Homo sapiens: one gene and its partners. The protein of the gene in region 2 purifies or fractionates together with the protein of the main gene of each other region. This does not show direct contact. Each region holds a gene or a part of one and is shown on either strand. Other genes may lie near its edges. The genes, in order: ARK2N, CDK11A, S100A7, ZNF33A, CTR9, ESF1 and GPATCH2L.

Region 1 (3,500 bases), on a different chromosome or scaffold from region 2:
TAAATAAAATTGTAAACTTGAAAATGTTCATTACATGTTGGCCTTTCAAGTTAGAGGATTAATATTATGGCATTTTTAGTAGCTCAGTATGCTTAGATTTTGACCGTATTAAGTCCTTTGAATTTGACTGTTGATCAAACAAGCAGATAATAATATATATATATTTTAAAGGCCTGTGTAATAGTAAGTTTTGCCCCACCCACTTAGAAAGGTAGGCATGTTGTGTTGACTAAATAATCTGGCATTCTGTTTATTGACTTTGTGTGTTTTTGTACAGGTTGCTTTCCTGTTGCATCTTTGATATCATTTCCTAGACTCTACTCCATGATTTAACTTGAAATTCTGAAATGAAGATGGAGGAGGCAGTGGGAAAAGTTGAAGAACTCATTGAGTCCGAAGCCCCACCAAAAGCATCTGAACAAGAGACAGCCAAGGAGGAAGATGGATCTGTAGAACTGGAATCTCAAGTTCAGAAAGATGGTGTAGCGGATTCTACAGTTATTTCTTCAATGCCCTGCTTGTTGATGGAACTGAGAAGGGACTCTTCTGAGTCTCAGTTAGCATCCACAGAGAGTGACAAGCCTACAACTGGCCGAGTTTATGAGAGTGACTCCTCTAATCACTGCATGCTTTCCCCTTCCTCTAGTGGTCACCTGGCTGATTCAGATACGTTGTCTTCCGCAGAAGAGAATGAACCCTCTCAGGCAGAAACGGCGGTAGAAGGAGACCCTTCAGGAGTGTCTGGTGCCACAGTTGGGCGCAAGTCTAGGCGGTCCCGATCTGAAAGTGAAACTTCCACTATGGCTGCCAAGAAAAACCGGCAATCCAGTGATAAACAGAATGGCCGAGTCGCCAAGGTTAAAGGTCATCGGAGCCAAAAGCACAAGGAGAGGATCAGGCTACTGAGGCAGAAACGGGAGGCTGCTGCAAGGAAGAAATATAACCTGCTGCAGGACAGTAGTACCAGTGATAGTGACCTGACTTGTGACTCAAGCACGAGCTCATCAGATGATGATGAAGAGGTTTCAGGGAGCAGCAAGACAATCACTGCAGAGATACCAGGTAGAGGATGTTTTTTAAACTGACTGTAAAGTACCTGATGGCATTTCTCAGCTATCAGGTTCAGTTAGATGAGTGACACTTGAAAAAATCCAGGAGACCTGCAGCTCTGTGTAAATTTGAAGACTGCAGTCTATTAACAAGACATGGCCAATTTATAAAACCTGTTCTGAGGTTTCCAGTGAACTTTAGCACATCAGGAAAAACAAAATTAAAGGGTTAATGATAGGGACAAGATTATTTTTAAGTAATGGAATTTCTCATAAGTCTGTCTGTAACACATTACCTGAACTCCCAATCATTGCCTTTTTGGCACTGCTTAGATTTAATACTCACTGTTCGGCATCATTACTGAGTACATTCTCCTCAGGAATAGGCACCTTGCTTTATTATATAGCCACTGCACTTGAGCTTATAGTGTCTGAAATAACACATTCTATCTTTTGTTAAAGTTTTCTAATAATTTTTCCTCCAAAAACAGTAGTTTTATGTGTTTCCCCCATATTCAATGCATGAGAAGCTAGTTATCCTTGTTACAAATCTTTCTATCCTCACGTTGAAAAGAATGTCTTTCTGAAAAATTTCCCATTAGTTCCCCAAGTTTTAAAAAAGTTTGTTAGAAATCCGCTTGTTCTAGCTCTCATTGGTATAAGGGTCTGTAACTTATTACATATTTGGTAAATCTGCTTTCCCCATTCTTATTGCATCTGGTACTGTGTACTATAATACAAAGGCAGTCTTGAGATTTCATAGTGGAAGAAAGATGTATCTGAATGGTTCTTAAGTAGTGAATTCTTATTATCCAAGAGATCCTTACAATATGATCAGGAACATTTTGTAAACTGTATGGCATTGAATAGGTCATGGCAGTATTGTTTATTGCCACATTGAAGAGGGGCAAGTTTGGGTTTTCTAAAGTTTTATGGGTGACTATGTTTTTTCTCTCCCTGTTTTCTGAAAGCTTTCTGTTTCTACATGTGAAGACAGCATATTGCTGATATACAAAGAACATTTCAAGAGAAATCATATTGGTTAATGGAATCTATAGCTTCCCAAACTTATATAAATTCAGTAACAAGAATGATTGGTTTTAAAGCACTTTATAGGTGTTCAAGTTCTGATAATAAGTCTTGTCCATATAATATAAATATGAGTCTCAAACGATCTTTAGAAATGCTTTTTACTGTTTTAATATCTCTATTGGATTCCTTTGCTATTGTTCCTTGTAATAAAACTACCGGGAGGGGGATTTCAATGAAGCTCATCAGTTAAATGTATGAGAGAAACAGACTTTGGGGTTGTTCTAAGGCAGGTTTTAGGTATATATTTTAGTTTTACATGTATTAATATTTTTAAAAAAACCTTATTAATACCTGTAAAATTGTGCATTCCTATATCCTCTTCTAACCTCTTAATCAAGACCTTGATGGAACTCTTAATACAATACTTACTTCCACTTACTAAGCAGGATTTTATGTAACTACCCCAATACTTTGCCTTTTTGTGGAAAGGAAGAAGGTGGGTAAACAAAATTTAAAGTCAGAACCCTATTGTAAGGTGGCTTGAGAAATGTCTTCATAGGCACTTTCCCTGTTTTGCTTAAATAGGTTAGATGTGCTTTGTTCATATTTTCCTAATCTTCTTTCTAATTGAGTATCTTGACCACTGCTTAAAACTTAAAACACCAGTGTCTGTTTCTTGTCTCTTCTGAATTGTGTACTAACTGAACACCAAAGTAAATTAATTTGAATCTATAGTTTGGTTTCTATTGTTCACACCATTTAGTAACTTTGTGGCTTTTGAAAATACACATAGTTTTCTAAGGTAATCCTGGAGAATCAAATGGTAGATTGAGGTACAGGGTCACTGTATGTGACTGCCTGTGTGTGTGCTGGCAGTTTTGGGAGGTCTTATGGTATACCTGCCATTCCCATAAGACAGGTATGAATGATCTTTACTGGAATTATGCAAAGCAGCAAAAATGGAACAACTTAGAGTTCAAATATTAGGAATTTCATTTCAATTGTCCATATTGTTGTCTCTTGAAAAATTGTGACATTGTGAATTTTTAATGTAACAGTGATGTATCTTTCAGTTTACTGAGTCACCTTATGACTTTGGGGAAGAGAGGAGGCACGTTCAACCTTATAGTAAGAGCAGTTGTCGAAAAGTTGCCTAAATTGTAAAGGTAGGATAAATTATGAACTGACTTGAGTTCAACAACATGGACATTCAGGTGAACTTAAGCTGGATGGGCCTAACAGAATCTCTTGGATGTCGGAATGTTAATTCAGCTGTTTACACAGAATGGAAACCAAGTGGAAAAGTAAAAACCGATTATTGCCATACTCTTTCATTAAGGTACAACCAATTTAGTAATTCAGAAAATGCTCTTTATAAGCTTTTGTTTGGGCTCAGCTTAAAAGTTGAAGGCATTATCC
Region 2 (3,500 bases):
GACCGTTCAGAGGGGCTATAGAGAGGATACTCTAGCTGAAAGCGTGCGTGTGTCACAGACCGAAAACCAGAGAGAGCAAACTCTAGCTGAAAGCATGCGTGTGTCACAGACCGTTCAGAGGGGCTATAGAGAGGATACTCCAGCTGAAAGTGTGCGTGTGTCACAGACCGAAAACCAGAGAGAGCAAACTCTAGCTGAAAGCATGCGTGTGTCACAGACCGAAAACCAGAGAGAGCAAACTCTAGCTGAAAGCGTGCGTGTGTCACAGACCATTCAGAATGGCTAGTCCATTTTTCCTCTGGGGTTTTCTCTCCCCCATTATATTGTTTGGGAGCAGTTTGTTTACATTTAAAATGACCTGAATTCAACAAGTATAGGAGAAAAACACACCCCAAAATGGGTATTTGCTCAAGTCCAAAGAATGGGTTAGGCTTGAGCAGTTTGATCTCGTACCAACATCAGGAGATTCTTACGGGTGTTAGGAAAATTGGACCTGGAGCCCGATTGAAATCTCATTATTATAAATACGCTTGATTAATTAATGTGGCTTCATTGCACAGTGGAGAAGCCCACTGATAGCAAAGCTTTGTTCTGTAGTCTTTGTGAAGAGTGGTTTTTGTATTATAAAACTGATAATTATAGTTTATTCAGTATAGAAAATTTTTAAAAGATGAATATTACAATTCTCTTCTGTGATAGCAGAATTGTTTTTCTTTTTTCTTCTTTCTTCATAATTAGACGCTTACTGCAGATAGTTTTCTATTTTCAAAGTTTTTTATTTAACATAAAATCATGATTATTCGACTGGGTGCAGTGGCCCAGGCCTGTAATCCCAGCACTTTGGGAGGACAAGGATGGAGGATCACTTGAGCCCAGGAGTTCAAGACCAGCTTGGCCAATATAGTGAGACCCTGTCTCTTCAAAAAAAAAAAAAAAAAGATTAGGATTACTTAACATCATTATTTAAATATTTAATGTTCTTGATTTAATTTCATTTTCATGTGATTTTTTTTTTTTTTTTTTTTTTTTTTTTTTTTTTTTTTGAGATGGAGTCTCACTTTTTCGCCCAGGCTGGAGTGCAGTGGCACGATCTCGGCTCACCGCAACCTCCACCTCCCAGGTTCAAGTGATTCTACAGCCTCAGCCTCCCTTAGTACCTGGGATTACAGGTGCCTGCCACCACGCCCAGCTAATTTTTGTATTTTTAGTAGAGACGGGGTTTCACCATGTTGGCCAGGCTGGTTTTGAACTCCTGACCTCAGGTGATCCACCCGCCTCGGCCTCCCAAAGTGCTGGGATTACAGGCGTAAGCCACCGTGCCCGGCCTCGTGAAATTTTTGAAGTGAGGTTTCTTTGCATGACACTTTATTTCTCATTAGGGAAGCATGCTAGAGTGAAAGAAAGAGAGCACGAACGTCGGAAACGACATCGAGAAGAACAGGATAAAGCTCGCCGGGAATGGGAAAGACAGAAGAGAAGGGAAATGGCAAGGGAGCATTCCAGGAGAGAAAGGTGAGTGGGCTGGGTCAGTTGAGGACTTTATGAAAGGGCCGTGGTAGTGTGTCCTGTCACAGCAATGAAGAAGAATTTGGCAATAGAAGTCACATTTGTTGCAGAAGTGGTAGACATGGAAACAGCACAGTGAACGCTGGACGAGGCTGACCAAGAGAACTGTCCTGAGGGAGTGAGTTTTCACTGCATCTGGAAGTAAGAACGGGTGTGATTTGATTGAGGGAAGACAATGAAGGGATCAGAAATCTGCACGTCCCGCCGGGCGCAGTGGCTCACGCTAGAATTCCAGCACTTACGAGGCTGAGGTGGTTGGATCCCTTGAGCCTGGGAGGTCAAGGCTGCAGTAAGCTATGACCATGCTACTGCACTCCAGCCTGGTTGACAGAGTGAGACTGTCTCAAAAAAAGGAGAAGGGAGATCCCAAAAACCTTGAAACAGTCTGGAAATCGGGACACTGGACTCCTAGGACTCCTGGCCATTAGTCTGTATATTCGTTCCCCTTTATGAGCCAGATTCCCAAGAAAGAACATCGGTGTAGCCCCAGATCTGTTCTGTGAACCAGGAAAAAGGCTGTAGGCCAGGTGCGAGCAGGCCCATCTCCGCCTTCAGAGTGAGTCCACAGAAAGCTTGCAAGCTGCTCCAGGAAGAGAGGAGTCTGAAGCGGAAGGGCGTGTGCAGCGATGTTTGCCAGCAGCCAGGGCTGGGTACACAGCATGTAAAGATGATGAGAGGGCGCTGGTTCTTGTTGATGCCGAAGGGTGTGGGAGACACTGAGGCCCAGGGGTCAAGGTCCGAGACCGCTGCTGGGTGAGCAAGGTTTCAGTTGGCCTAGTTCCTGTTAGTGTGTGAAACATTCATGTATGCCACGCCCTGTGCCAGACATTGAGTGTGTCTTGTCCCACGAGAGTAGAGCTTGGGATAGAAGTGGAGGTTGGTAGATGAAATTTGGGCTGTCATATTGATTTCCCAGAAGGTAAAGACAGGAGAGTGAATGAACAAAAATTGTTGGGGGCAGACTTCTGGGTAGGGCCGATTCAGATCAGCCAATCCAGAACTGGGTGTGGTAGCATATGCTACGTGGGAGGCTAAGGCCAGAGGACCGCATGACGCCAGCCTGGGCAACGTAGAGAGACCTTGTCTCTGACAAAAAGGAAACTGATAAGGATAATCTGAGAAGCACTGATGCTTGGAAAACTGCTGAGCTGTGGGTAAAAGCAGTAAGAATCTGACCTTCTGGCCTGAGAGCTGCTCCCTTTACTGCTTCCACTCTGCACTTGGAAGCACGGAGGTTCCACTGGGACAGGGCAGCTGCAGGACCTGCAGTTTCCTTGCTGCCTTGGAAGGGGTTACTCCGTTTAGAGCAGTGGGCAGTGGCCTTGCCCACCAGCATCCTCAGTGGAGGGAGGAAAAGGCCAAGAGGTCTGCTAGAATGAAGTACAGTGTGGTTGGGAGCAGCTGTGATCCCGCCAAAGACGTGCAGCAGAGACTGGAGAGAGCTCGAGCCGCCACCCACTTGTGACCAGCCCTGAGGATGCAGCTGCGTGAAAGGACCTAGCAGAAAATAGAAGCCGCCACAGATGCGAATGACGCCTGAACGTTCAGTGTGCTCCCTGTCCACACACAGCCGTGGGCCAAGGAAGCCTTACTGTGCTCGAGGTATTTGAGCCCAGCCTTTTTCCAGTGCTGGCTAATTGCTAAGCTGTGCAGCCATGGTGGTGACCCCTAGGAAGCCAAGGTTGAAAATTAAAATAGGCATGTGGGAAGGAACGGGGTGGCCATGAGCTATGAGGGAGATGGATTTCACGGACAACCAGACAGGCCTTGGTGGTAACAACGAAAGGGAAAACTTAGAATCCAGAATTGCTACAAATGTATTATCTAAAATACAAAGAAGTATGACAGTGTGACCCGTACTGAGGAAGAACATCATCAGTAGAAACTGTCTTGAGTGTCCAGATGTTGAATTTAGTAAAGGCTTGGAAACAACT
Region 3 (3,969 bases), about 150 Mb from region 2:
TCCCACCTAGGGAGACATCACATCAGCTCTGTGGAGCCCCAGAGTGCTTAAAGGGCTGGCACTAAATGAACCTGGAACTCTCTTGCACCCTAAAAGGAACATTGCAAGGGGGTAGCAGAAAAAGTCCATTTCAGTGATTCATCATCTCCCTTTCCTCACCATGCCCCAGGGATTCCCATGCCTTCCCAACCCTCTTGCCCCTACCTGGGTCAGCCTTTCCACAGCAGGTTAGGGCACATTATAGCCAAGGGCACAACTCCCAACTCCTACACAGGCTGTTTTGCATAGGAGGAGGAAAAACACTGAAGACTTTCTGGGAAGTTAGTGCCATGGGGCAGGAAAGAACTTTTCCCACTCCCTGCCTCCAGGCTCATTCCATGGGGGGGTCACTCCACCACTCAACCTAGATAGTGAGGCCCCTGACCCCAGTCCCCCCACCTAATTCCAGGGCTTCTGTGAGGGGCTGACCAATGGTTAGCAATGAAGTAACCCTGCTTCCCTCCCTGGACTTTGAGTTCCCATAGGGCAGACCCTGATGTGACCCAAGACCTATAGCACAGGGGATAAGAGTAAGGATTTGATTCAGGCTTTTCTGAGTCCATATAATGATTTGTTGTGTTTACTAGCTGAGTAAACTTGGGAACATCTCAACTTCTCCTTTCCTAAAATAGAGATTGAAGCACCTCTTAGGACTATGAGGGTTGAGGAGGATGCAGGAGCAGCAGGTATCTTGATATCTAGACATTAAAATGCTCAGTCAGCGGTGGGGGTCATAGAACAGGCTGTCATAACAAATGTGTGGAAGGATAAGGGGAGGGAACAAACAAGACCATGCTGCCTTCAGGAGTCTGAAACTCCATCCTCTTTGGGTCCAGAGGCCCAGTGCTCTTTTCTCCCATTTTCTGACCTGCTACTACACATGTACCGCTGCCTTACCCTCAAATCAAGGTTGAGCCAGAGAAGACTCCAGGTGAGGTCTCTGGGGTGGGGTGGGACCTGGTGACCTGGGACACTGGCCAGAAATCCTGAGCACAGCCTCCTGGGTGTGTCCCACCCACCTGATGTGGGGCAAGCCTCCAAGAAACAGATGACAGAGGTGGCCCCAGGCCTCCCAGCCCCTGGGAAGAGCCAGGCTGAGCCTTATAAAGGACTGCTCTTTGTCCAAACACACACATCTCACTCATCCTTCTACTCGTGACGCTTCCCAGCTCTGGTAAGTCTCACCTGCCTCTTTGCGTTTTCTAGAAGTGCCCAGTGCCTGGCCTGCCATGCTGCCTGTAGGAAGGGAAAGGGCTGTGGACAAAGACTCAGAAGCCTGGGTCTAGGCCAGCTCTGCCATTAGCTGGGCTGTGTGACCTTCACTTGACCCCAAAAGCCCACGTCTGTATAACCAGGTGGCTGAACCAGACCTGTCCATTGCTCCTTTGGGATCTCCTGAGGCAACTCCTGTGGAAATGTCCCCAGTGGGACCTGAGCACAGGACCCTCCCTGTCCTCTTCCTCCCTGGATTCATCCTCCTGTTGGGGTCCCGGTTGCTAAATCCCCTCCCCAGCTCCAGCTCCACAGAGGGTGGAGGGCTAGGGGTCCCCTGTGAATGCTTTGGAGGCTCTCCAAACCCCCAGGCCTGGGACCCCGACACAGCATAGCCCTGGCCAGATGGCTTGCCCCTACCTGGGTAAGGTATTGAGAAACCAACGCTCCGTCACTCCCTACCACAACCTGCAAATTGTCAGTCACCCTCTGGGCACAGGGCTTGCCCTCTGGCCTTGGCCTCAGATTCAAAAAAGCTCTGGGTGGCTCCTCTTAGTCAGTTGCCGGCATGGAGCTTTCTCCTGCATTGAGAGGTGTTGGGGGTTTATTGTCAGACACCCATATGCATTAGCCAAGGTCCTTTCCTGGTTCTTTGGAAAGTGTGGGAAGTGAGAACTGCACTGTCCTATTTTTCAGGCTTGGGGTGCAGGCCAGCCCAGACTGACTACTGGCTGAAAGATCTGCTTTGGGAAGTCAGACATTTTTATTTAAACAGTCAAGGCTTGGTGATTCAGAGGGTGCAGATAATTCCCAAGAGCAGACATGAAGTGACTCCCACCTCACTCCCACCCCGTCCAGCAGCTTAAGAACCAGAGAGTTATTTCTGTTCCTTGTAACAGAGGCCATTCCTGTTTCTCGTTCCCAAGGGAATACAAGAAGGGCCCCCTGTGCTCGGGACAGGACTGTGTTTCCTGCTAACACTCACGTCCACGCTCACATGTGCACCTGGAGCCTGCACACACCGTGTCATGCAGGGCTTGCACTTGAGTCAAGGTGGGGCCCACGGTGTCTGGTTCCTGAAGCAGCCGAGGAGGGTCAGACACCAGATCACCAAGGCCATTGTCCTGCCCCCATGACTGTCACCCCGACTGTGAAGCTGGAGGAGATGGATTTGGTGCTCTTTTAAGAGTGGGGTCTGCCATGTGCTGGCTGAGGCTGGGGTGTCCCAGCTTAGTTCTTCCATGTGTTGCTGGCGCCCGACTCTCCCTGCTTCTCCCTCTCTGAAGCACTGTCCACAGCTGGACTTCCGCCATCCACCTGCATCTCCTCTTGGCCCTGGCCAGGATGGGCCAGGTCTCAGACTTGGTCCTACCCTCTCATTTTTGAGCAACTTATCCCATCACATTAAAAAAAAATTGAGTTCGTTCTGCTACACCTTATCCGTGTTTTTACTCTGTCCTCAGCCCTCCTTCCAGCACTCCCAAATAGAGACCCTAACTTAAATGAAGGGAAAAAAATGATTGTCTTTATTTCCTGAAGGCTTTTTGAAAGCAAAGATGAGCAACACTCAAGCTGAGAGGTCCATAATAGGCATGATCGACATGTTTCACAAATACACCAGACGTGATGACAAGATTGAGAAGCCAAGCCTGCTGACGATGATGAAGGAGAACTTCCCCAACTTCCTTAGTGCCTGTGTGAGTCGGTGTCTAGCTTCTCAATGTTGGAGGATACATTTTGCTATGTGGCCTTGGACAGATCACCCTCACCCTCTGATTAAAAAATTTCCCATTTGCAAATAGGGCTTTATTACTTGGATCATATGTGAATCTAAGGATGGTAGGCAAAAAAGTATGAAAATGGGAAAGAGTTATACAGATATAAAGGAGGTTATTAGATGGTCAGCAAAGTGTGCAGCTTGAGGGCAGTGCACAGTCCCCTCCCAGCACTCACTGACCCTCTCTCTGTGAGACTGAAACTCACATGCTCAGGTCCTGTTTCCCAAAGGCCCCACATCAACATCCCTGAGATTACTGGGAAAGCACTAGAAGTTCCATTGTTAGTAGAAATCAATAGCCCTCTTTGCAATAAACAAGACTCATTAGCAAATCTGAAAAAAAACTGTGGGCTACTAGGTACCAAAGGGTCTAGATGACCAAGAGTAGGATACCCAGAAGATGAGTTTGGTGGAAAAGGAGAAGAAAGGAGAGGAGGCCAGAGAAAGAAGAGAACAAAAGCATGAGGGCCAATTTTGAGGCCCTGGGGTAGAACTAAGGTAGGCAGTGCCCTTAGAGGCTGGGACGGGAAAGAGTGAGGCTGGGGCAGGGGACTGCTCTCCCCAAGGTCACTTAACAGAGCACCTTGGGACAGGACCTGCCTCCCATCCTGAGGTGTGAGACAAAAAGACTCCCTAGAGAACTCCAGGGATAACACTCACGTCCTCACCCCAACTTCACCCACTCACCCTGTGCTCTCAGCCCCGCCACCATGCCTGTGCAGATCTAGGTACTTGTCTGTATCTCTGCCTCCTCCTCTCCCTCCCAGCCCAAAACTTGTTTGTGATTGAATTTTTCTATTTTGTATGTTTTTCTCTTCACAGGACAAAAAGGGCACAAATTACCTCGCCGATGTCTTTGAGAAAAAGGACAAGAATGAGGATAAGAAGATTGATTTTTCTGAGTTTCTGTCCTTGCTGGGAGACATAGCCACAGACTACCA
Region 4 (2,457 bases), on a different chromosome or scaffold from region 2:
ATAAGATCTAGGTGAGTTTGTCAGTCACACCAACTCTCAGAAAGGTGAGAAGGACACCACATGCTGGGAAGAGCCACACAGGGTTCGACTAGGGAGCAGAGTGGAAAAGGAGGGGTTGTGGCGAGCAGCTGTATTATCCAGAGTACAGTGACCACTGTTTGCTGTGGGAGGATGTGAGGGGTTTGGTGATAATTCCAAGAGCTGGCAGGGAAGCAAATCTTACTACTTAGGAATAAGCAGGAATTGTGCCTGGCCCCCCTGACAAGGAGGACTGTCTGCTAAGTTACCTCACCTGTGGAAGCAGAGTGGGGATGGAAATGAGGTTAGGTCATTTGAGGCCCTATTGGCTTCAGATGTCAAGAGAACCAAAAATACTAGTCCTTAATTTCAGGTCACAGTTACCATAATTTAAAATATATTAAGGATGTACAAAAGCAATTCAATTGTTCACTAATGATGATTTACATGTTCAGTCAGAAACATACAACTAACAAAAGAACACCTTAGTACAGAAACAAGATGTTCCTCAGGGTTGGTTGGTTGGTTATTTATTTACTTGATACACTTCATTTTTTAGAGTAGCTTTAGGGTTACAGAAAGTTGAGCAAAAAGTATAGAGAATTCTCATATAACCCTTTCCCCTCCCATCTTCCACAGGCTCCCCAATCATTAACATCTTGCATCATTATGGTTCATTTGTTACAATTAATGAGCCAACAGTGATACATTATTATTAACTGAAGTCCAGAGTTGACATTAGGGTTTACTCTGTGTTTTCCGTTCACTGTTTTCCATTCTCTGCGTTTTGACAAATTACAGTACCCTAGAGAGTACTTTCACTGCCTTAAAAATCACCTCTCTACCTGCCATCCCTCCTTTCCCCTCAACTCTCAGCAACCACTGGTCCTTTCACTGGCTCAATAGTTTTGCCTCTCCCAAAATGTCATATAATTGCAATCATACAAAATAGAAAGCCTTTTCAGATTGGTTTTCACTTAACAATAAGCATTTAGGGTTTCTCCGTGTCTTTTAATGACTTGATGTCCAATTCCTTTTTATCATCTACCTGAGGACTGTATCCTGCAATCCTGCTGTAATTGCTTATTAATGTCAGCAGGGTTTTTGTTATTTAGAATTCTCTACAAAGACAATCATGTTACTTGTGAACAAAGTTGTATTTCATCCTTTCAAATCTATGTGCATTTTATTTCTTTTTTTTTTAACACTGCATTATATAGCACTTCCAGTACAATGCTGAAAAGCAGTGGTGTGGTGTTCCTTGCCATGTTCCTGATCTTAGTAGGAAAGTGTCTAGTTGGAAACATCAAGGATAATGTTAGCTGTAGGGTTTTTTGTAGTATGTTCTTTACCAACTTGAGTAAGTTCTCCTGTATTCCTTCTGTGTTGAGAGGTTTTAACATGAATGGATATTGGATTTTGTCAAATGCTTTTTCTGTACCTATTGATATGATCGTATTTCATCTTTGAGCTGCTAATGCATGCAATGGATTACACTGAATATCAAATGTTGAACAAGCCTTGCATTCCTGATTTGCTAATATTTTGAGGATTTCTGCATCTGTGTTCAATGGAAATATTGATCTGTAGTTTTCCTTTCTTGTAATATCTTTGCCTGGTTTTGCTATTAGGGTAATACTGGCCTCACAAAATGAGTTGGGAAGTGTTATCTCTGCTTTTATTTTCTGAAAGAGATGGTAGAGACTTGGTATCATTTCTACCTTAAGTATCTCAAAAACACATCAGTGAACCCAGCTGGTCCTGGCACTTTGTTTTGGAAAGTTTCATTATTATTTTTTGAGATGCAGTCTCATTCTGTCACCCAGGCTGCAGTACAGTGGCACAATCTCAGCTCACTGCAACATCCACCTCCCAGGTTCAAGTGATTCTTCTGCCTCAGCCTCCTGAGTAGCTTCGACTACACACGCATGCCACCATGCCCAGCTAATTTTTTGTATTTTTAGTAGATAGGGGGTTTCACCATGTTGACCAGGCTGGTCTCGAACTCCTGACCTTGTGATCCACCCGCCTCAGCCTCCCAAAGTGAAGTGCTGGGATTACAGGCATGAACCACTGTACCTGGCCTTGGAAGGTTATTAATTACTGCTTTGGTTTATTTAATAGATACATATGCCTATTGAGGTCTATCTTGTGTGAGCTTTGAGAGAATGCGTCTTGCAAGGAATTGGTCCATTTTAGCTAAGTTATCAAATTTATGGACAGAGTTGTCCATGTTTCTTTCTAATCCTTTTGGTGACCATAGGATTAGCTGTGATGGCCTCTTTCATTTTTGGTATTAGCAATATTTGTCTTCTGTTTGTTCTTAAGCTAGCTAGAGGTTTATCAATTTTACTGACCTTTTCAAGGAACCAGTTTTGGGTTTTATCGATTTTCTCTTTTCAATTTCAATGATTTTTACTCTAATGTTTTTTCAGGTTA
Region 5 (3,500 bases), on a different chromosome or scaffold from region 2:
TTTCCTCTGGCCTAAGGTAGTGGTTCTCAACTGGGGATGAAGTCATGTTTGGTTATCACAATTGGAGGAACGCTATCGGCATTTAGTGGGTAGAGGCCCGGGATGCTGTTAAAACATTCTATAATGGAAGGGACAGTTCCCCACAACAAAGAATTATCCAGCCCAAAACATCAATAGTACTGAGGCTGAGAAACCCAGGTATCCCTGTTTTGGACAATTATACATAAGGGGAAGCATGATGGAGAGCTTCCTTCTCAATATAAGACAGGGCTTCTCTAAGAGAAAGCCTTTTTATCCTTTCTCTTTCCTCCCTCTTTATAAGACCGATGTAATAATGAGAAGCTGGAGATGCTGCAGCCATCTTGTGACTATAAGGTGACAGACATGATGAAGAAAGGCTGCACATTAAGGAAGGGAGGACGGAATTATATAAAATCATAGGTTTGACGACAAGGACCTATCAAATTTGAGACCTTTGACAACTGGTTTAGTAAACACTAAAAGCCCTTATGTTTAAGGCACTGGGATGTGTTTTTTGTTACGTGCAATGAAAGCATTCCAAACTGATATACAAGTCTACGACCCCTTATCTGAGATTCTGAAATCTAAATGCCTTAAAAAACAAGTTTTGTTTTCTGTTTTTTTTTTTTTGGTAATCTTGGAGCAAACTTATTTGGTGGCAATACTACCTGAATTGTAACCCTATCCTACTAGTGTAAACAGTCTATCATTTTGCCACAGAAATATAAGTTTGCTTTTGGGGTAGTGCCCCAATAACTAGGTGTTATACATTACAAAGTACAGGTACCCTTCTGTAATCTGTAATCTTAATTTCTAAGACACATCTGGCTCCAAGAGTTTTAGATAAGAGGCTGTGGGCCTGACAAAGCAGTTAGGAGCTAGATACTTTTTTCATTTACATACCTCTTTATTGTTGAGTTCTAGAACAGCCAGTCCAACCAATGCTCCCACGCATTTGGAATTGAGTTCCAGGGCTCTGCTGAATGCCAGACGAGCTTTTTCCAGTTTGTTAAGTTTCACAAAGCAATGACCCATTCCTAAACGAACTTCCGCTATAAAATGAAGTCATTCAATCTATCAAACTAGGGCATTTTTTAGAGTTCAATTACAAAAATGCTTAAACATTCTCTATTTATGAGTTGCAAAATCCCCAAAATTAACCTCAGTATAACTACACTACAGAATCTTTTGACCTATCACAAACTTGGTTTCCTTGGAGGCTACATCATACCATATTCCAACCCTCTCCTCTATCACTGACACATTTCTCACTATAGAACAGAACACCTATAATACTGGTATTCTTCTTGTCTTCTAACATCGCTGCTAACCATACCTTCAATTTCTCATTATTGAAGAACAATTTTTAAACAGAGAACAAAAGTTCCACTAAGACCTTAAATAATATGACTGATTATGGGCACATACCATTGTTCCTTTCAAAGCTATGCTCATATGTGCTACCTCATTTAAGGCCATGCCAAAACACAAACAAGTTCCCATCTAAAGCCAATCACCATACTGGTCACTAGATGCCCTCTTATCTATTTAAGAATACTGCTCCAGCAACCCTCCCCTATTTTTTCTCTCTACTGGATCATTCATTCTCATCTACACATAAACGTTCTGCCATCTTATACAAATCCTCTCTTGATTCTATATCCCTTTCCAGTTGTCGATCATGTCTGTTCTTCAATAGCAAAACTCCCAGAATGATCTAGCTACGCTTGCTATGTCTAATTCCCTTCCTTCCATTTTCTCTTGAATACACTCCAGTGAAGCTCTCACCCCACCATTCCAGTAAAACTGCTTTTATCAAGGTCACTATGGATTTGTATGGTGCTAAATCCAATGATCAATTCTGTGTCCCTATTTTACTTGACCTAACAACAGAATTTGACACTGTTGGTCATCATCTTCTTCTGGAAACATTTTACATTTGCCTTTAAAGACAATGCACTTACCCTATTTTCCTCCTATACCTCTGGCTATTATCTTCTCAGTCTCCTTTGCTGATTCTTCCTCATTTCCCTAATCTCTTAATATCAGAGTGCTCTAGGGCTCCACCTCTAGACCTCTTTTCTATTTGCACTCATTCACAGCTTTATACACTATCTATATGTTGATGACTTCAGCCCAGACCTCTTTCCTGAATTCCAGCCTTTCTGCTGTCTTCACTTTGTCAATTTTAAATAACGGGATTTGGAAAATATGATTAAGTATAGAGTGTATTGGAGTGCAAGGTGTAAGAATGGCCACCAGAAAAGTACTGACTCCAAATGAATGATATCAGCATTTTCCAAAGTGAAAAAGTTAAGGTTTTAATTATTTGGGGGAAATAGAGAAGTTCTAGTAGGATTGTAACATTCTAAAATATAACACCAGGTGCCTATGTCACAGCAATTTGATTGGTTACAAATTGCTATATTCTAAAAAGATTATTTTATTGCTCCATGTGAGGGGGATCTTATTTCTGGCACCATTTGATCTTAATTGTTTACAGAAAAAAAAAGGCAGAAATTGCAACTGCATGCCACGTGACTCAGGTTGTATAGCCACATTCTTCTCAAGGCTCAGGATAAAGCTCTAAAAGCTTTAAGGCTGAACTGCTTAATTTGACAACTTATATGTCTAAAAGGTATTTCAAACTTTTCAGGTCTAAAACTAGTTCCACTTAAACTATTTCCCAAATATAGTAAAATATAACTCTACTTTTCCAATTGCTTGTGCAAGGGAGTTATCTTTGACTCTTCCTCTCTGTCTTATACATCATAGGTACTCCATCAGCTCTCCTTTCAAAATACATGTAGAATCTGACCACTTGTACCAACTCCACTATTACCTCCCTAGTGTGAGCCACAATCACCTCTGACCTGCCTGTCTGCAGATGCCTTCTCCCTGCTCTCCCTACTTCTGTCCTTGACCCCCTCCCCTTGAGCCCCACTCTAGTCTCAACCCCAAAGCTCAAACGAACCTTTTAAATATAGGTCAGATCACGTCACTCTGCTGCCCAAGGCCCTCCAATGGCTTCCCATCTCTGTCGATGTAAAAACTAAAGTCCTTACAATAATCTGTGATGCCCTACGTGATTAGTCAGTCCCTGGTTATAGCTTTGACCCCATTTCTTACTACTTTCCCCCCAACTCTTTCTCTCTCTATTCCAGAAACAATGGCCTCCTTACTCTTCCTTAAACTTACCAGGCACTCTCTTTCCTCTGGACCTTTGTACCTTCTATGCTCTCTCTCTAGGAGTGGTCTTCTCCTATATATCTGCATGGCTGCTAGTTGTTTTTTAGGTCTTCACACAAATGTCACTATCTCTGATGAGTTTCCTTGGTCATCCTTTCTAAGCAATTCCTGATGCTTCTCATACCCTTTTTCTGCTTTATTCTTCTCCTTGGCTCTTACTGGTAGCTTACACATCATACATACTTTACTATTTATCTTGCCCACTGAAAACTGGACTCCATGAGGGCAGG
Region 6 (3,500 bases), on a different chromosome or scaffold from region 2:
GACTGTGATTCTCCGGAAACAGCTAGTAAAATTTATGAGGATTGTGATGGCCTGGAATTTGAAAGTAGTTGTTCTTTCATAGATCTAAGGTAATCCAGTGTATGTATTACCAATTTAATCTTTTAGTACAACATGATTATAAGAAGTAAAATATTTGAACTGGTAGTGATCTCTGTTTTATATTCTAAAATGATTTTTTTGCTTTTCGGTTAACTCTATCCCATGGAACATCACTCCTAAGAAAGAAAACAAACAAGACAGTGCTAAAGTATTATGTATGAATCATCCCCACATCTTTGTCCTTTCAGACATATTGGCTCTGTTTTTAAGATGGTGTACCTTACACAATAATATTTCCTTGCAACTGCTTTTAGAGCTAGGAACCAGATGAAGTTAACTTTTAAAAATGCATGGAGGAAGGGGCAGAGGAATTTGAAAACAGATTGTTATCTCTAGATCCATGCTATCCAGTATAGTAGCCACTAGTCATATTTGGTTATTTTAGTTAAAATTTATAAGTCAGTTGCGTAGTCATATTTCAAATAATTGTTCCATTTTGGACAGAGCAGATATAGAACATTGCCCTTGTCACAGAAAGTTCTGTTGGACAACACTGCTCTAAATGTAAATGGCTAAATGTACAATTAGGAAATTGTAAGACTCAACCTTAAGCTTTCCCTTGTTTTCAGTGACACCTCATGTATATGATACTTTGTATTCACAATGCTTACCCATTAATAATTATATTTGATCTTCAAAATACAATATAGCCAGCTGGGCATAGTAGCTCACGCCTATAATCCCAGCACTTTGGGAGGCCTAGGCAGGAAGATCGCTTGAACCCAGGAGTTCAAGACCAGCCTGGGCAACATAGTGAGACCCTGTCTCTACAAAAAATTTTAAAAGTAAAAATTAGCCAGGCATGTTGGCGCACACCTGTAGAGGATCGCTTGAGCCCAGGCCGTTGAGACTTCAGTGAGCCATGATTATGCCATGGACCTCCAACCTGGGTGATGGAGCAAGACCCTCTCTGTAAAAACAACAACAAAATCATGTAGTCAATGACTGCACTATCAGAAGTCTGGATCTTTTTGAAACGTGAGGGACCCACATGTGCTTGCACCTGACTCATTAACTGACTCCTAATGCACGATTTCTATCTATACAGCATTCTTTTAAATTTAGTGGAATTACAGAGTTATAGCTTATGAATTTCAGAAATTTATACAAAGATGAATTCATTCAGAAATATACAAAGGTTATGTCTAACATTGTCTCTTAAACGTGTGTCTTTTAGAAAGTTTGTGTATGTATAAACTACAACTAATTAGATGAGAATCTAAACTGTGGTTATCACTGCAGCGTATTTTAAATAAATTTTTTTTCTTTACTTCTTAGGTTTATACCAGATGATATTACTTTTGATGATGAGCCTAAGGATGTAGCCTCAGAAGTGAATTTAACAGCATATAAACCAAAATATTTCACTTCTGCTGCAATGGGAACATCAACGGTATTTCTTTACTTTAAAAAATATGTAGCTGGACTCTATTGCTTTATGAAGAGATTTTGTATATTACTTATAGCATCTTTAAAAATGGAAAGTATTAATTTTTTTGTTATTATTTTTTCTTGAGACAGAGTCTCGCTCTCTCACCCAGGCTGGAGTGCAGTGGTATGATCTCAGTTCACTGTAACCTCTGCCTCACAGGTTGAAGCGATTCTCGTGCCTCAGCTGCCCAAGTAGCTGGGATTACAGGTGTGTACCACTACACCTGGCTAATTTTTGTATTTTTACTAGGGACAGTGTTTCGCTATGTTGACCAGGCTGGTCTTGAACTCCTGACCTCAAGTGAGGCCGCCTTGGCTTCCCAAAGTGCTGGGATTACAGGTTTCGTGAGCCACTGCTCCCAGCCTCAAAGTATTCAAAATTTTTAATGCATGGGTACAGAGAGAAATGAGACACAAGCGTGTCTGCCTCTACCATATCTGTGAACCTGTTTTCAGATTCTTGTTACGCATTTAAGCCTGTGTCAGTTATCTGCTGATGTTTCTTTTTTCTCTTCTGTCTTTCCTGTACACTCTTCTGTCTCTCCTATACACTCTTCTGTCTTTCCTATACACTCTAATAAATCAGTTATTAATATCCTAAGGAATAAGGGGAAGTGGATAATAAATTACCTCCCCGCACAGTTAAATGAAACTAGGGAAAATTTAAAATAAGAGTATCTCCTATACACTCTAATACATCAGTTATTAATATCCTAGGGAATAAGGGGAAGTGGATAATGAATTACCTCCCAGCACAGTTAAACAAAACTAGTGAAAATTTAAAATAGGAGTACCTTTTTCTGCAGATGATTCAAAACTGTAAAAAGAATTGATATGGAATAATTAAGGTATAATAGATGTCACATTAATGCTTAGTAACAAATAGCCAAAAGGTTTTTGTCTATTGAAATAGTTTATTACTTAGGTGACTACCTTCTCCCTTTTCCTTTCTTTCTTTTTTTTTTTTTTTTGAGACTAGAGTCTTGCTCTGTCGCCCAGGCTGGAGTGCAGTGGCGCGATCTCTGCTCACTGCAACCTCTGCCTTCTGGGTTCAAGTGATTCTTCTGCCACAGCCTCCCCGGTAGCTGGGATTACAGGTGTGTGCCACCACACCCAGCTAATTTTTGTATTTTTAGTAGAGACTGGGTTTCACCATGTTGGCCAGGCTGGTCTTGAACTCCTGAGCTCAGATGATCCGCCCCCCTCTGCCTCCCAAAGTGCTGGTATTATAGGTGTGAGCCACTGCGCCTGGCCCCTTCTCCCTTTTCTTTTTTTTTGCTTTTTTTGGAGACTGAGTCTCACTCTGTCGCCTAGGCTGGAGTACGGTGGTGCAATCCTGGCTCACTGCAACCTCTGCCTCCCAGGTTCAAGTGATTCTCCTGCCTCAGCCTCCTGAGTAGCTGGGATTACAGGGGCACGCCACCATGCCCAGCTAATTTTGTATATTTAGTACAGACGGGGTTTCACCATGTTAGTCAGGCCGATCTCGAACTCCCAACCTCTGGTGATCCACCCGCCTTGGCCTCCCTTCTCCTTTTTCTTTCTCCCAATAACCTTTCTGTCCACAGCTGTACTCTGCAGTAGCCACACTAGCTTCCCTCTGCTTTTCCTGTGTGATAAATCACCGTGCTTCTCTGAGGAGGGACTGGTAGCAGAGAGAGTAGCTGTATCTGCCACCTGCTATGCCGTGGTGGGCACTGTATGGCATTGATTAGTTACTGGGTGTAGTAAAACTCTACCATTACATAGTAAGCAAAGTCTAAAAAATTCAGTCACATGAAATTAAAGTCATGTTATTTTCAGAACCAACATAATGATCAGGGCCAGCCTGTCCAGCCAGCCAGTCTAAAGTTCCTGGGTCCTGGCTGTATCATCAACATCTGTCCTAGTTCCAACAGTGTTTTGGTGGTTATCAGCTCAGGCTTAATTGTCAGAATAGGGATCATTTC
Region 7 (3,500 bases), on a different chromosome or scaffold from region 2:
GAGGGCCACCACTCTTGTTTGGCAGCCTTCTTTTATAACCACAGTTCTTTGGGTTCTGATAACCATTCTTTCCCTTGCCACTCCAAGTCTAGGAATGGTAAGGGCCTCCTGCTGTGCTGGCTCCACCTGATGTGCTTCACTATCCCCTTGTGGGGTTCCTTGTTAGTACTGTCTCCACCTTTGTGAATAGTCACTTCATTACATCTCTGCAATGACCCCATTTAAATGTGCCATGTGTTTGCTGAGGGGGTTCTGGCCAATAGCCCTTTCTCCTTTGTTCTCTGTGGCTCCTTGTATTATACTTACTGTTTCTTTTACTACTCACTAGATTATGTTATTGTTTGTAGGTACGAGTCTTTTCCCTTGAGGCTTTTCAAGGCAGGACTTATTATGTGCAACCACAGTACCTAGCATGTTCCTGGCATATAGTAAATGTTTAATAAATAATTATTTATAATCCAATTAAGGGGAAAACTCTCCTTTTTTTCCCCCAAACAAAATCGAACATAGATTCTCAGATTGTAAAACAACTAAGCCTATTTGGTTTAAAGCAAAATTCTAGAGGAGCCAGAGGTCAGGAGCCCGATCCACCTAGCTTCTTGCTTATTCCCTGGCAGCGCTCTTTTAAGGAGCTCCTCTATCAGGCATCTTAGTGAACCCTGATTGAAGACTGCTGGTCTATGTGGTCTCACAACGTTCCTTCTAGTTCAGGGAGTCCCTTTTTGTATTATTAAAAATCTTGAATGACTGCTTGAGAACCAAAAAAATTCCATTATAGTTTGCCATTTGTCGTCAGAAAACATGGCCTAATTAAATATACTATTTCAATAAATGGCCTAAGGAATGCTTATGAATAAGAAAAGAATTAATATATTGAAGTACAGAGAAACTAGTTATTATACACTAATGCCTGTATTCAGTTCATCTATGTATCTGGTTTCGTGAGATGCTTTTAGAGTAGCGGTTCTCAAAACGTGGTCCCCAGGCCAGCTTGGCATCATGAGGGAACTTGTTAGAAATACACATTTTTGGTCTTGCCCAGACTAGAATCAGAAACTCTGGAGTAAGGGCTCAGCAGTCCATGTTTTAACAAGCCCTCCTGCTGCTTCAGATGCATGCTCAAAGTTGAGAACTACTGTAAGAGAGACAGCTGTTTGTGGTGTGTTTTTATAAGGGAACACTTTGAGTAACTTTCTTAGTTGTAATATCTCCTGCTTTTCACCAGAATGCAGTTTTCATTGCCCATTTTGGAGATCTCCACAGTGATTTAAGAGTTATTATCCTGCGTGTTAATGACCCATGAATCTCATACTTCATGGGATTGACATTTCTGAGCAACTTGTCTGGAATCCAGTGTACATTAGAGACTGACTACATTATGAACTCTTTAGATATTCTTGTAATAATTTCCTTCAATTTTGCTATTTTGCAAGGGGTATGTGGTGGCAGACATACAATTATCTATTCTTTGTTGGCAGGAATAAACTCTAGTGGAAACTGAGATACTATCACTATAGCCAGTAGAAAGAAGTTTGTACTACCAACAGTCTGGATATATGGATCTGGTTGTGACTTTGCTGTTAATTAACAAATGGCCTTGGGAAAATGGTATAACTTATTGAAAAGCCTTAGGGGATTATGTTATTTGTTGCTGTGGTTATTTTTTTTTTCCGCAGTAGCTTGGATTTCTAGTGTCAAGATGATTTCTGTCCCATTAATGAGATACCAACGATAAATGAAGTATGGACATATATTCTTTATTCACCTTTTATGATAAAGGCAAATATAGCAAGAAATCCCTCAGGTATAGCTAGCTTTGAATTGAGAAACATTTATGGGTTTTGAACCTCCAAGTTTATACCACTGAGAATGGTATAGGGGAGGCAGTTTGTTTTTGTAATAAAGATCTCAGGCTTTTGAGTTAGTCAGGCTTTGGGTTCAGATCCTGGCTTCATTGTTTACTAAATTGACCTTGACTTCTCTAGGCTTTAGTTGCCTTGTTTGTAAGTTGGAGTTAGTGTAGGGCTTGGAAGAGATGACATATTTACAGATTTTTAGCATGGATCCTGGTAGGTTGTAAGGGTTTAGTGAGTGGTAGCTTTATTTATTTATTTTTAGCTATTAAAGCGGTCCAGTCTAACACAGTATGACATTTATGTGAAACCAGGTTGGTGTTCCAGTTTTCATTGTAAAATGAATCAAGAAGGACCAGAACAATGCCTTGATTTATTTAAAAGTATAATCAGCCTGTAATTCCAGCACTTTGAGAGGCTGAGGTGGGTGGGAGGATTGCTTGAGCCCAGGAGTTCAAGAGCAGCCTGGGCAACATAAGGAGACCCAGTTTCTACAGAGAATTAAAAAAAAAAAAAAAGACTGGGCGCGGTGGCTCACGCCTGTAATCCCAGCACTTTGGGAGGCCGAGGCGGGTGGATCAGTTGAGGTCAGGAGTCCAAGACCAGCGTGGCCAACATGGCAAAACCCCGTCTCTACTAAAAAAATACAAAAATTAGCCAGGCATGGTGGCGGGCGCTTGTAATGCCAGCTACTCAGGAGGCTGAGTCAGAGAGAATTGCTTGAACCCGGGAGGGGAGGCGGAGGTTACAGTGAACCAAGATCACGCCACTGCACTCCAGCCTAGGCAACAGAACAAGAATCCATCCCCAAAAAAATAAAAAAATAGCCAGGCATAGTGGCATGAGCCTGTGGTTCCAGCCACTTGGGAGGCTGAGATGGGAGGATTGCCTGAACATGTGATTACGCCACTGCATTCCAGCCTGGGTGACAGAGCAAGACTCTGTCTCAAAAAGGAAAAAAAAAAAAAAGGATGATCAAAACTATGGCACTAAGAAATCATCCCTCCCATTTGTTTTTCTCAGACCTTGTTTAAAATTCTAGCTTATGATATGATGTCTTTACTTTAGGTGATGACGAACAGAGTGATTGGTTCTATGAAGGAGAATGTGTCCCAGGATTCACTGTCCCTAATCTTCTGCCCAAGTGGGCTCCTGATCATTGTTCTGAAGTAGAAAGAATGGATTCTGGATTGGATAAATTTTCAGATTCCACATTCCTTTTACCTTCTCGGCCAGCTCAAAGAGGTGAGTTCTGAGGAGACCAAGAACTTAATGCTTTTATGGTTCTCCTTGGGCAGAGCAATCACCCCCTAGCAAGCATACTCATGCCTTCAATCACACATTAACTATCTGAATTTTGGAGCTAGCTCAAGGATTTTCTAGAGGAGTCAAAGTAAGTCTCAAAGCTTAAGGTTCTCTCCATTCCTTCCTAAACTAATCCATGGAAACTCCTGGGACATATATATTATCAGGAGATTCCTTCAGCTTGCCATTGCCGTTTGTGCCAGATTTAGTGACAGCTGCTTATCCTGATGTGAAACTAAGAGGTTATTGAGTATCGGATTTTGGAAGAGAACAGATTTCAATAAGAACATTCACATACATATTCTTATTTTCAGTAAGAGTATTCACATATAATGGTGTTTT

What was found.
Region 1: the proteins of CDK11A (region 2) and ARK2N purify together in Homo sapiens (affinity purification with mass spectrometry; 2 studies listed by BioGRID and IntAct, with this or other methods). This does not show direct contact.
Region 3: the proteins of CDK11A (region 2) and S100A7 purify together in Homo sapiens (affinity purification with mass spectrometry; one large-scale study listed by BioGRID and IntAct). This does not show direct contact.
Region 4: the proteins of CDK11A (region 2) and ZNF33A purify together in Homo sapiens (affinity purification with mass spectrometry; one large-scale study listed by BioGRID and IntAct). This does not show direct contact.
Region 5: the proteins of CDK11A (region 2) and CTR9 purify together in Homo sapiens (affinity purification with mass spectrometry; 2 studies listed by BioGRID, with this or other methods). This does not show direct contact.
Region 6: the proteins of CDK11A (region 2) and ESF1 purify together in Homo sapiens (affinity purification with mass spectrometry, with the first as the bait; one large-scale study listed by BioGRID). This does not show direct contact.
Region 7: the proteins of CDK11A (region 2) and GPATCH2L purify together in Homo sapiens (affinity purification with mass spectrometry, with the first as the bait; one large-scale study listed by BioGRID). This does not show direct contact.

Annotation. Positions count from the first base shown.
Region 1 is NC_000018.10:46,215,534-46,219,033, forward strand, and holds part of ARK2N (protein ARK2N), read left to right. Parts: intron 1-277; 5' UTR 278-347; coding exon 348-1,062; intron 1,063-3,500. UniProt on the Homo sapiens protein: AMPK substrate important for exercise capacity and skeletal muscle function.
Region 2 is NC_000001.11:1,714,358-1,717,857, reverse strand, and holds part of CDK11A (cyclin-dependent kinase 11A), read left to right. Parts: intron 1-1,379; coding exon 1,380-1,512; intron 1,513-3,500. UniProt on the Homo sapiens protein: Appears to play multiple roles in cell cycle progression, cytokinesis and apoptosis. The p110 isoforms have been suggested to be involved in pre-mRNA splicing, potentially by phosphorylating the splicing protein SFRS7.
Region 3 is NC_000001.11:153,457,852-153,461,820, reverse strand, and holds the start of S100A7 (protein S100-A7), read left to right. Parts: upstream 1-1,169; 5' UTR 1,170-1,213; intron 1,214-2,790; 5' UTR 2,791-2,807; coding exon 2,808-2,948; intron 2,949-3,850; coding exon 3,851-3,969.
Region 4 is NC_000010.11:38,058,131-38,060,587, reverse strand, and holds the end of ZNF33A (zinc finger protein 33A), read right to left. Parts: 3' UTR 501-2,457; downstream 1-500. UniProt on the Homo sapiens protein: May be involved in transcriptional regulation.
Region 5 is NC_000011.10:10,757,746-10,761,245, reverse strand, and holds part of CTR9 (RNA polymerase-associated protein CTR9 homolog), read right to left. Parts: intron 1,074-3,500; coding exon 925-1,073; intron 1-924. UniProt on the Homo sapiens protein: Component of the PAF1 complex (PAF1C) which has multiple functions during transcription by RNA polymerase II and is implicated in regulation of development and maintenance of embryonic stem cell pluripotency.
Region 6 is NC_000020.11:13,767,920-13,771,419, reverse strand, and holds part of ESF1 (ESF1 homolog), read left to right. Parts: coding exon 1-89; intron 90-1,398; coding exon 1,399-1,513; intron 1,514-3,500. UniProt on the Homo sapiens protein: May constitute a novel regulatory system for basal transcription. Negatively regulates ABT1.
Region 7 is NC_000014.9:76,168,922-76,172,421, forward strand, and holds part of GPATCH2L (G patch domain-containing protein 2-like), read left to right. Parts: exon of another isoform or gene 1-2,277; intron 2,278-2,921; coding exon 2,922-3,098; coding exon of another isoform or gene 3,099-3,109; exon of another isoform or gene 3,110-3,500.